Linked DNA regions of Homo sapiens: all the other regions are linked to region 3. The links come from fine-mapping of genetic effects on gene expression. A gene starts in region 3. Each other region holds a variant in brackets. All regions are shown on one strand. Distances are between the middles of the regions. Region 1 overlaps PIAS4 (protein inhibitor of activated STAT 4). Region 2 overlaps PIAS4 (protein inhibitor of activated STAT 4). Region 3 holds the start of EEF2 (eukaryotic translation elongation factor 2).

Region 1 (4,104 bases), 28 kb before region 3:
GAGAGCCAGTGGGAGAGAGAGGCAGGGTGGGGATGGCCTCTTTGTTCTGAGCCGCCAGCACAGGCACACTGGTGTAGACAGGGGAGCAGGCTCTCCCGGAGATCAGGTGACCGGGGTCCCTGGTGGCTCAGGGCACAGCGATGTATTGTGGGACGGAGCTACTGGTCCCCGTGCAGGAAGGAAGCTGGTCAGCCCCGTCCCCCGCCCTGGACCAAGCCTGCCCTGCCGCTCCCAGGAAAGCCCAGCCTCCCTGTGATGCAGGTCCTTCCCAAGGCCCAACCTTCAGAGACAGCCAGCTCTGCCCAAGAACCTGGCAGGGGGAACAGCTTCCCTCATGAGAGAGCAAAGGCTGGGAAAGTCAGTCCGATGGAACTCAGGCCAAGACCCTGAGTCCCCCAGGACAGGTGCCACTGGGCCAACCTGCTCCCCAGGAGGCTGCTGCTAGACACCTCCTGCAAGAGAAAAAAGGTGGAGGCGGAGCCTCACTTGGAAGGCGGAGCCTCAGGCTGGAGGGAGGAGCCTCGGCTGCCGCAGGAACCACCGACAGCACCTTCCTCCCTCCTCCACTTCCTCCATCCTCACCTGGAAGCACAGCCCCTCCAGCCTAACCTCACTAAGTCCCAGGGCTGCAGATGGGAGGGGAAAAGCAGCCAGTTCCCCTTCCCCCTACCCCCATCAACGCTGCCTCCCTGGGCAGGGGAGCGGGGGCCAGCTGGCACCCAATGGACTGAAGCGTGCCAGAGAAGGGCCCTCAGGCCACAGCAGGGGCCAGGCAGGTTGCTGGGTCAGCAGGGTGGGAGGGGGCATGCACAGGGTTCTGAACCTCGTGGCCTTGGTCCTGTTCCCTGCTGCGTGCCCACGCCTGGTGCCCATCACGCACCCACCCAGCAGGCGCTCCGATGTTTACTGTGCGAAGGAAAGAGTGGGGGCAGGGGAGGGGAGGCAGGAAGAAGAGACGGAGAGACCTCCAGGCACACAGAGGACTTGGTGAAATCTGAGCGCCTCAAGGCACAGGTCCGCAAAGGCCCAGGACGTTCCGCTCCCTATCTGGGAGTCCCAGAGGCTGCACACTCTCTCTGCCCTGGGGGCTGGGGCTGCGGAGGCCTCCCTGGCCCTGAGCTCAGGGCTATGGCTGAGGCAGAGACTGGGCTCAATGCCCACCTGCAGCCTGAATGGCCACGGCTGCTGGGGAGGCACCAGGGGCCTGTCCACACTGCTGTGGGCTATGAGGTCCTGACACACAGTTCCTGCTCAGTCAGTGCTTGCAGACAAAGACACGAGAGAGAGAAGCGTGGAGCCCAGCACCTCTCCTCCGCCTGGGATCGCCCTGAACCCCCAGCACGCCCGGTGCACACAGCCTGGCAGTGACCTGAGCCCACTGACCAAGGACACTCCTGCAGGCTGCCAGCGAGGAACCAGAGCCCGGGGGAAGGATGCCACTGGCCAGCCCCCTTTCCAAGGGGAATAAGCAGGGAAACCAGGCTCCCAGGTGGCCCTGGTCACCCCTGGCCCTGGCAGTCACAGCCTGGTGTGGTCCCTGCATGCGCCACAGAGTCTGTGTGAGCAACGGACTCTGTGGGGGAGATGGCGAGGCGTGTCCGAGGTTGGGTTATAAAAAGGGCTCCAGCTCCCAGCTTGGAGGTGCACACTCGCTACCCTAGGGTGAGGGAGCCACCAGGCTGAGGACGCCCAGGCAATCCGTGCAGGAGTCCGCACCATGAGGACCTGGGGACTGTGGCCAAGAGCTGGCGAGGAGCTGAGGCCTGCCAGCCACCACACAAGGATGTGCCTGCTCCAGCCCTGGTCGAGCCTCCAGATGAGGTGGCTCCAGCCTGACT[G/TG]AGCCTCATGAGAGCCCCCAAGCCCCAATGCCCCGCAACACAGCTCACAGGTTCCTGAGAGCTAACAGACGCCCCCTGCTTCCAGTGGCTCCATTTCGGGGTAACTTGTAACACAGCAAGGGGTGACCAATATCAAAGATGGTCCCTTTGCTTCCGAGGAAGGACACCCCTGGCCACTGTGGCTCCCCGCCCTGGCTGCGCCACAGAGAACATCACTCGAAGTCGGCTGTGTGGCTGGGCTGGGCTGGGCGACGGGGCCTAGGTGAAGCCTCCAGTCGCAGCCTCCCCAGGGTGACCACTCACCTAATTCGGTGGGCTTCAGCAGCTCATCCAGCATATTAAAGAACGGCAGCTTCACCAGGCGGACTTCTGGCTTGAGGGTCTTGGCGGGCAACCGTCCCAGTCCGTTTAAGTACTTTCCGTAGAGCACGGGGTAGTCAATATTGGGGCCTGCCAGCGGAGTCCTGGGCACAGCGCCGGCCCGGTCGTAGGTGGAGTGCATGGTCAGGGGGTCCAGGGGCCGGTGCGGCTGTGGGGCAGGCTCCGAGTTCTTCTTGGCGTAGCGGGTCTCGTACAGCTCCTTGATCTTCTTGAACAGCTCAGGGCTACAGTCAAACTGCACCAGCTGGAGGGCCCTGGTGACGAGCTCGTGCTTCAGTCCACTCTTACTCCGGCCCACGAAACCCAGGAGCATCTGAAGGTCGGAGACTCGAAAACTCATCACCATGTTCTGAGGAGGAGCAAGCACACACACACTCAGAGGACACAGCTGCGAGGCAGGGGACTCCATGGAGGCCAGGCCCCGATGTGGGGGCCGTGAAAGACACCCACTCGCCAGGAAGCGCCAGCCTTGGCTGGGGCTGGTGGAGTGCCCTGCCCCTACGGTGCCCCCTCCCAGCAAAGCCCTGCCCCCTCCCTCCTCCTCATCAAACTTTCCCCAGCATCGCCAACGCAGCAAAAGCGCCTCTGACTAGGCCCCCCCTTCTATTTTAGGTTCTCTTTCCCTGTCTTCAGCCTGAAAGCATCCCCAGGGCAGGAACTGACAATTGTGCTTTACTTGTAAACAGCCTCTGCCAGTGCCTTACCGGCAAACACCAAATGCCTCTCTGACCCTCAGTCTCTACGTCGGGAGGATAATGACATAAAGCACTGGCTGGGCGGGCGCTCAACCCATGTCAGCCACAGATATGTTTTCCCTTCGGTCTCGCCAACGGTAGCCACAGTTTACTTAGTACTAATCACCTGCCGGGAACCAAGCCGGTCATGTGATTATATATTTAACTCTGATCCTTAAAACACCCCTGCTAGGCTGGTGTGTGAGCTCTGTCACAAATGAGGAACTGTCGGCTCAGAGGTGGCAGCGCCAAGATTCGAACCCAGGCCTGGCTCTGAAGCCAGGGGCGGTTCTTGCTGCCACACTACCCTCTGGATGTCAACACAGGGCTGGGCCTGTGGGGGCCTCCGAAACATCTGCTGATCATCCCAGGCAGGGTTTCTCCTCCTTGGCCCTGTGGACACTGGGGCCATCCTGGGCTCTGTGTGGTGCTAAATACCCACAGCTCACGACAACCAAACACACCTCCACACCCCACACACCTCCACACCCCACACACCTCCACACCCCACACACCTCCACACCCCACACACCTCCACACCCCACACACCTCCACACCCCACACACCTCCACACCCCACACACCTCCACACCCCACACACCTCCACACCCCACACACCTCCACACCCCACACACCTCCACACCCCCCACACCTCCACACCCCACAGCTCCACACCAAACACACCTCCACACCCCACACACCTCCACACCCCACACACCTCCACACCCCACACACCTCCACACCCCACACACCTCCACACCCCACACACCTCCACACCCCACACACCTCCACACCCCACACACCTCCACACCCCACACACCTCCACACCCCACACACCTCCACACCCCACACACCTCCACACCCCCCACACCTCCACACCAAACACACCTCCACACCAAACACACCTCCACACGTTGCCCTGAGTCCCTGGGGGACCGGTCCAAGGGGAAGATAGCAGCCACAGGGGCTGTTGCAGGACCTGGGTCAAAGCGACAAATGAGGCTTGGCAGGACCTGGCCCTCATCGCCTGGCCGGGCCTCTCCAGCGAAATAAAAACCAAACAGCAGAGCCCAGCTGACCCTGGTGTTTGAGGTGGGGTAGACTGGCAGTGGCCTGACCTCCATGAGGGGTAGGACCCTGAAGGGGAAGGAA
Region 2 (4,104 bases), 35 kb before region 3:
GGCTAACACGGTGAAACCCCATCTCTACTAAAAATACAAAAAATTAGCTGGGTGTAGTGGCAGGCGCCTGCAGTCCCAGCTACTAGGGAGGCTGAGGCAGGAGAATGGCGCGAACCTGGGAGGCGGAGCTTGCAGGGAGGCGAAGCTTGCAGTGAGCCAAGATCGTGCCACTGCACTCCAGCCTGGGCTACAGAGCGAGACTCTGTCTCAAAAAAAACCACCAAAAACAACAACAACAACAAAAAAAACAAAACTCTAGCTGAACAACAAAAAGACAGTGAGAACACAAACTACCAATATCAGAAATGAAAGAACAATAGTACAGACCCTACAGCTTTTCGGTTCAATAGGGGAATAAAAGGTGAAACTTTATGCCAATGAATCTGACAACTTAGTGACATGGACAAATCCTCCCAAAGATGCAAATTACCAAAACGGGTACCAAAAGATACAGGAAGTTTGAAAAGCTCTTTACCTGTTAAGGAAGTTGGATCCATAATTAAAACCTTTTCTGAAAACTGCAGGTCCAGATTGGGCATGGTGGCTCATGCCTGTAATCCCAGCACTTTGGGGGCTGAGGTGGGTGGATTGCTTGAGCCCAGGAGTTTGAGGCCAGCCTGGGCAACAAAGTGAGACCTTGTCTCTACAAAAAATTTTTAAATTAGCCAGGTGTGGAGGTGCACACCACCTGTAGTCCCAGCTACTTTGGAGGCTGAGGCAGGAGGATTGCTTGAACCCAGGAAGTGGAGGCTGCAGTGAGCCATGATCGTACCACTGCACTCCAGCCTGGGCAACAGAATCAGACCCCATCTCAAAAAAAAAAAAAAAAAAAAAGAAAAAGAAAATGCAGGTCCATATCGGTGAATTCTATAAAACATTTTGGAAAGAAACCACATAAACCGTACATAAACTCTTTCAAAAAACAGAGAAGGAAAGCATACTTCTTATTTTACAAGGCCAGCATAACTCTGATACCAAAACCTCACAACTCAGCATCAAGGAAGGAAAATTCCCGATGAATACCCCTCATGAACACAGATGTAAAATCCTCCACAAAATATCAGCCAGTATTTCAGGCCCCTGCGATTTGTGTAGAAATCCAAGACCGGTTTAAATCCTCTCTACACACCCAGGCCAGGTGCGGTGGCTCATGCCTGGAATCCCAGCACTGTGGAGGCGAGGCAGGTGGATCACTTGAGGTCAGGAGTTCAAGACCAGCCTGGACAATATGGTAACCCCATCTCTACTAAAAATACAAAAATTAGCCAGGCATGGTGACACACGCCTCTAATCCCAGCTACTCGGGAGGCTGAGGAGAATCGCTTAAACCCAGAAGGCGGAGGTTGCAGTGAGCCGAGATTGTGTAACTGCACTCCAGCCTGGGTGACAGAGTGAGGCTCTGTATCAATAATATAAAATGAGGTAAAATAAAATAAAATACCTCTCTACACACCCACTAGCATGGCTAAAATGAAAGGACTGGCAACTCTAAGAGATGGCAAAGGTGTAGAGCAATCAGAACTCTCTGCTGGTGGGGTTATAAGACAGTACCATCACTCTGGGAAACTACCCTTATAAAGGTAAGCACAGACCTACCCTATCACCCAGGAATCAGGAATCCCACTCCAAAGTATTTTCCCTCAATACATGGAAACATGCGTTCAAAGAAACTTGCAGGCTGGGCACAGCGGCTCATGCCTGTAACCCCAACCCTTCAGGAGGCCAAGGTGGGAGGATCGCTGTAGCACAGGAGTTGGAGCCCAGCCCAGGCAACACAGTGAGACCTTGTCTCTAAAAAAAGTTTTTAAATAAGCCTGAGCCAGGTGTGCTGGTGTGCAGCTGTCATTCCCGCTACTCAGGAGGCTGAGGTGAGAGGACTGCTTGGGCTCAGAAGTTCGAGACCAGCCTGGGCAACATAGCAAGACTGTGTCTACATTAAAAAATATATTTAGATACAAAGCAAAAACGCTGAGCAGCGTGCACGTCCTGCTATCACTTGTGTAATGAAAATGGAGAGAAGGCATCTGAGTAAACACCTATTTGTTTA[T/C]AAGTGTAAAAAATATCGGAAGAGCGTGGGGGAGCGAGAATCTGGCCACAATGGCAGCCTTGCAGTGGCCGGGAGACGAGACAACGAGATGACAGGCAAGCCCTTTAGAACAGGGATGGCGAACTGCCCCTGGTAAAGGCTGGAGCTCATCAGCTTCGCAGGCTATGTCTGTGCTCCCAGGTGCTCCCAGGACGGCAGTGCACACAGTGGTGTGGCCTGCACCCACGACAGGGCCTTTACAAGAACCGGAGCCATGGGATCGCACCTCAACTACCAGCACTGTCTTGGAACTTTCTCAATTAAAACCCACGAGAAGCCGGGTGCAGTGGCTCACGCCTGTAATCCCAGCACTTTGGGAGGCCGAGGCAGTCGGATCATGAGGTCAGGAGATAGAGACCATCCTGGCTAACATGGTGAAACCCCGTCTCTACTAAAAATACAAAAAATTAGCCGGGCGTGGTGGCAGGCGCCTGTGGTCCCAGCTACTCGGGAGGCTGAGGCAGGAGAATGGCGTGAACCTGGGAGGCGGAGCTTGCAGTGAGCTGAGATCCTGCCGCTGCACTCCAGCCCGGGCGACAGCGAGACTCCATTTCAAAAAAAAAAAAAAGAAAAAAGCCAGACTCCCTGGGCTCGGCTCCCAGCCCTGCCAGGGCCTCTGTGGCCTCAGCCTGCACGTCCCGCCCATGTTGACCTGTTTCTTCGGGGACCGGTGCCGGGTCTGTGGCTGGCCCTCAGGAAGAGGGGGCTGCCACAGCCGGTTCCCGTTTATATGCTCAGGGCACAGCCAGTCTCTGCAGAGGTGATGGGCTGTGGAGTCCCGGCTGGGCCCTTGAGGAAGGCCGCCTAATTGGGAGGGGGGCACACAGGCCACCTGCAGACGCGCCCAGGTCTGCCCTGAGTGCCAGGGGAGCAATGGTTCAGGGGCAGGGAGGCTGCACGGGAGCCTACACCTGAGCTGGGCCTTGAGCTTCCAGGCTGGGTCGGAGGTGAAAACACAGACACCCCACCCCTCAGTGTCTCAGAAGGAGGTAGGGGAGAAGGGTGGGTCCCCAGCAGGCAGCAAGGGAGCCACCCAGCTGGCCAGGGATTGTTGCCAGCCCATGCCTGGGGCAGACAGGGCCCAGTCATTGAAGAACAAGACTCTGGGGTCCCTGCCCTGGGAGGGCTCCTCCCTCTGGGGGAGACCGGGCTGTGCTTCTCTGCTGGGGGCCTGGGAGGTGCCCTGTGCTCTCACTGCTGTGCCACTGGCCCCGGGCCGCTGACGGTTCCCCCCAAACACCCGGCCCCCCTATGCTGGGGAAGGGGCTGTGGGGTCTCCCTCAAACCTGCCCTTCTGCCCTCGGGGTCAGCTGTTTGGGGCCAGAAACCCAGGTGGCATCCATGAAGCCCCCGTCTCTGCTGTCCTGCAAACATCCACTCCCTCAGCCAGTCCTGTCAGCTCTGTTTTCAAATCCCGCCCGGTGCAGACGACTGCCCCCAGCTCTGCCGGTCTCAGCAGCCAGAGCCCGCCCCCTGGGATGGCTCCGCAGGAGACCCCTGACCCTCAGTACCCCTGCTCAGGGCCACACACACCCCGGCGCACACACGGCCACCACCCTGGCCTCCTGCTTGGGCCCCACCAGCCATGCTGCATCAGGGCCTCCGCACCTGCCATTCCCTCTTCTGGAACCTTCCTCCCCCGACCAGCCTCATGGCCCTATATTTGTCTTTGTACAAATGTCACCAGAAGGAAAGCCTTCGCTGAGCACCCCATTTAAAAACCGCACCCCCCGCCACCTCACTTTTCTCCAAACCTTCTCCTCCTAAGGAGCGACTCAGTTTCCCTACATCACTCTGCTGCTCCTTCTTGTTGGGCCACTGAAGCATGAAGTTCCCCAAGGGGGAGATGGTTTCGTGGGCTGCCCAGCATCCAAGGCCACGGGACCAAGGCAAGGGCACCACTGAACCAGATGCACCTTTGGGGCCAGGTGCAAGATCAGGTGACCACGGGGGCCCTGCCAGGCAGAGCCGGTTCTGGGGTGAGGTGCTCAGCCAGGCCCTCCGGCCCGGGCACGAAA
Region 3 (4,104 bases):
ACTTATTACAGCTGACCTGGTTGTGGCTGCTTGTGGTACTCCAGGATTCTGCTCTTCATGGATGTGGGGATGACAGTGGGAGAGATCCTTCCCTGCCAACACCTGGCTCCATCCCTGCAGTTATGGGGTTGAAAATTCCCCTTTTTCCCTTAAGCTCTCCCCCTAGTTCTTTAAATTACATGATGTTAGAATTTTTCAATAAGCAACCCATGCACTTGAGAAGAAATTCAACCCCTCTTTTATTAAGTTCCGGGATACCTGTGAACAGCCCCCCCTCCTTTTTTTTTTTTTTTTTTTTTGAGACAGAGTCTTACTCTCAGTCGCACAGGCTGGAGTGCATGCAGTGCCGTGATCTCGGCTCACTGCAACCTCTGCCTCTCGGGTTCAAGCGGTTCTCCTGCCTCAGCCTCCAAAGTAGCTGGGATTTCAGGCGTTCACTACCACGCCGGGCTAATTTTTTTATTTTTAGTAAAGACGGGGTTTCTCCATATTGGGTAGGCTGGTCTCGAACTCCTGACTTCAGGTGATTTGCCTGCCTCGGCCTCCCAAAGTGCTGGGATTACAGGCGTGATCCACCGCAAGCAGCCTAACCCCTCTTTAATTTTTAAAATTTTTAAAAATTTTTTTGAGACGGAATCTCGCTCTGTCGCCAGGCTGGAGAGCAGTGGCGCGATCTCGGCTAACTGCAACCTCCGCCTCTCGCCTGACACCTCTTTTAATGAAAACCTTTCCATTACATCTCTGAAATGCTCCCACTTTGCACGGAAAAAACGGCTGCGAAGCCCCCAATAGGAAACGCAACACGTAGCAGGTGCTCAGTGCATTTAAAAATTTTGAAGAATTTTATTATTAATAATGCGAAACTGACTACCCCTCTGCTAAAAACTCATGCCCCAAATGGCGCATGCGCTTGACTTGCAACTTAACTAAACGCGTCACAGGTACAGGTGTAGGTGGTTAGGGACCCCGGGCGCTCCCATCTGCTCCCTGCCGCGCCCTCTGCCTTTCAGAGCCTCAATCCTTTCGGAAGATACTTTTCAGTTTTCCACTGGGTTAAATGGTGATAGGAAGAGCAATCATCCGTTAAATGAAACCCAAGGTTGAGACAGCGCTTTGTAAAGCAAAGTGCCCGAAGCATTCGTGAGGGGGAGGAGTGTACAGGTTTATTTTAGAGTCCAGGCTGGAATTTGCATTGCTTTTTGTGGATCCACACCTCCCCCTCTCCCAGCCCAGGAAAAGCACTGCAGTGGCTCTCCTGTTTCACAAAGTGAGTTTAAGGAAAGATGTACCGCAGGGGGTTCATTTGCACTGTGAGAACATCATTCATGCAAGAAATGCTGAGTACCTACTATGTGCTAAACAGCGGGTTGGGCTTTTCATAAGGGATAGAGTTACACAATTGAATGCCAATTCATGAGATATGAAATACATTCAACTGTTTCTTAGGGTCAGATTAGGACACAAATGCTAAACAGTCTTCCTGCGCCTCCCCCTGGAGAGGAAATGAAATAGAAAATGAAATTGTGCCAGTAAACCGCTTAGCCGGGTGCCTGGGACATGGCAAACCAGTCCTGAAATAAATAACTGTTTTATTAATAGCAATCTTAGCTAATTAAAATAGATAGCGTTTATTGAGCGTTGGGTATCAGGCACGGTCCTAATTCTTTTAGATGTCTTTAGTTCGTTTCACTCTCCCCCAAACAATAGGGTGGTATTGATCACCTCCGAGCAGGTGAAATTGAGGCACAGAGAAATCCTAGTAGCTGGTAGAAGAACACGCAGTGTGGTCAAGCTAGCAAGGTGTTTGGTCCACTGCTATATCTACAAAACCCCTAACAATGCCTGGTGTATAGATGCTCAGTATGCATTTGTGGGATCAGTGATTCCGATGCCTGCTTCTTATAAAGTTTTTATTTAGAAATAATTACAGGTAAGGAGTTGCAAAAACAGTATAGTGGTCGCGAGTGTCCTTTTTCCCTCGGCTTCTCCCAGGGGTATCGTCTTACGTAACAATGTCCAAACAGGGAAATTGACTTGGGTATAATCCACAGACTCTATTCACCTTGTAAATTGGTTTTAATAGAAGTACTGGACAACTTGTAAGCTAATATCGTTGCTATGGTTCTCGTTCTCAGCTAAAACGGCGCTCTTTACTTTGTGCACCTGAACACTGCACACCGAGGGCGACCACCGCCCCCGAGATGCCCAGCTTCTATTCTAGAGCGCCGCGCCGGCGCCGAATGGGTTAACGGGCGGGGGGACACGCCTCCGTGCGCTTGCGCGGCGTCCCTTCGCCCCGCCTTCGCAGCGCAGTCACATGACCCGCCCAACCGGCGTCCGCCTATAAAAAGCTGAGTGTTGACGTCAGCGTTCTCTTCCGCCGTCGTCGCCGCCATCCTCGGCGCGACTCGCTTCTTTCGGTTCTACCTGGGAGAATCCACCGCCATCCGCCACCATGGTGAGTAACCCTGCCTCGCTGGTGCCCCGGAGCGGCGGCGGGGCCTCCGCGGGGCCTACGCTGCCTAGCCTGGGACGCTGGGGCCCCCCGTGCCAGGAGGAGACGTAGCGGCGGCGGGGCCGGAGGACCCGGGGCTGGGGAAGCGGCCGCCGCCATGTCTGTGCGCCGCGCTGTTCACCGAGCCCTTTCTCCGTTTCCGAGGGCGCCATAACCTTGCCCAGACCTGGTTGGAGCTGGGTTGTTAGCGGGGATGGGGGTGGGGAATGATGATGTGGCAGGCGTAGTAATGGCGGGCACCGCGGTGGAAGCGGGGAGACAGGGAGGCGCCTTATGTAACCCGCGGGCCGCGAGTTTGAGATCGATTTTCTGCCGGGGGACTAGGGGCGGCAGGGAATGGCAGAACGAGCAAAGCGACACCTGAAAGGCTCCCCTTTTCCTTCCAAATACCTTCTCCTGATGCTGTTAATCGTCGACCTTAGGCACTTGTCCTTCCTATGACTCCCAGATGTACAAAGACTCTTATTGAGACACGAGGTGTAGGCTTGTGGCAGTTAGGGCCGTTCCGGCTCCCCGTTATTTCCTGGGGTGGGTGGCCTTGTCTGATCCCGTTTGCCAAGGGGTGACCTTGCATTTTATGATGAAGCTTCTTGCTCGGGGAAGTTTGGGTGGCCCGGTGACAACGTGGAGGGGGCTTTAGGAGAGGATTCATCCCTTACGTGTTTGGCCCCAAATGAGACTTTAGTATTTGTACCTGGTATCAAGGAAATCTGTTGACACTCAGTTTTATTCCTGAGCACTTTTATTTCTGGGTTGTCAATCATGAATGACACCTATTAACGGTGGTTCCTTGGAGATTGCGGGGTGGCTCTTAAGGGGTGTTAGGCTGGCAAGATTCGGTGGGCTTGGGGCACCCCAGCACCAACCCCCTCCTGGCCTTGGGCATGCTGGTTCGTTTGGACTGAACGCTCCGTGCCATGCTGTGTTCCTGGAAATCACGAGCTGGTCTGAGCCTCCTTGTCTTGCCCAGGTGAACTTCACGGTAGACCAGATCCGCGCCATCATGGACAAGAAGGCCAACATCCGCAACATGTCTGTCATCGCCCACGTGGACCATGGCAAGTCCACGCTGACAGACTCCCTGGTGTGCAAGGCGGGCATCATCGCCTCGGCCCGGGCCGGGGAGACACGCTTCACTGATACCCGGAAGGACGAGCAGGAGCGTTGCATCACCATCAAGTCAACGTGAGCTCCCTGTGCCCTCTGTACCCAGGCAGGGAGGTGCTGGCCTGGCAGCTGGAGGCCACTGGGCCAGGGTGCGCGGGGAGAGACTTGGCAACGTCTCTTTCCCCTGGTTTCTTAATTCATGGGAGAATGAGTGAGGTTCAGTCCAGCGAGACAGGATGGAGAGGCACAGGGATTCGGGGTACTGCGAGCTGGAAGGTTTTCTTGAGGAGGGGGCTTAACTCCGTGGTTCTCCCTCCCTGGGGGACTTGCCCCCACTCCTACAATATCTGGAGAGGTTTGGCTGTCACACCTGGGAGGGGAGGGTGTTCTAGTGCTTGGGACGCTGGGAAGCTCCTGTGTTGCACTGGATGATGTTCATTCCATGTCAGTTTCTGGCCCCGATATGAGTAGGGGGAGCGCAG

What was found. PIP is the estimated chance that this variant, and not a neighbour inherited with it, causes the effect. A credible set is the group of variants that fine-mapping cannot tell apart.
Region 1: its variant is the best candidate, but not a certain one, in a credible set for the expression of EEF2 in tibial nerve (GTEx, PIP 0.51).
Region 2: its variant is the best candidate, but not a certain one, in a credible set for the expression of EEF2 in lung (TOPMed, PIP 0.59).

Annotation. Positions count from the first base shown.
Region 1 is chr19:4,011,387-4,015,490 of GRCh38, reverse strand. PIAS4 (protein inhibitor of activated STAT 4) reads right to left here. Exons shown (of 11, transcript NM_015897.4): 2 at 2,142-2,568. Among named protein-coding and RNA genes, the nearest start is that of PIAS4, 5.7 kb to the right of the region's middle. The variant G/TG (reference allele first, on the strand shown) is at 1,839.
Region 2 is chr19:4,018,473-4,022,576 of GRCh38, reverse strand. The region is part of intron 2 of PIAS4 (protein inhibitor of activated STAT 4); the gene reads right to left. Among named protein-coding and RNA genes, the nearest start is that of PIAS4, 13 kb to the right of the region's middle. The variant T/C (reference allele first, on the strand shown) is at 2,048.
Region 3 is chr19:3,983,732-3,987,835 of GRCh38, reverse strand. EEF2 (eukaryotic translation elongation factor 2) reads left to right here and starts at 2,373. Exons shown (of 15, transcript NM_001961.4): 1 at 2,373-2,458; 2 at 3,486-3,700. The coding sequence starts at 2,456. RefSeq lists enhancers at 1-121, 2,138-2,187, 3,443-3,662, 2,956-3,807 and a silencer at 2,468-2,577.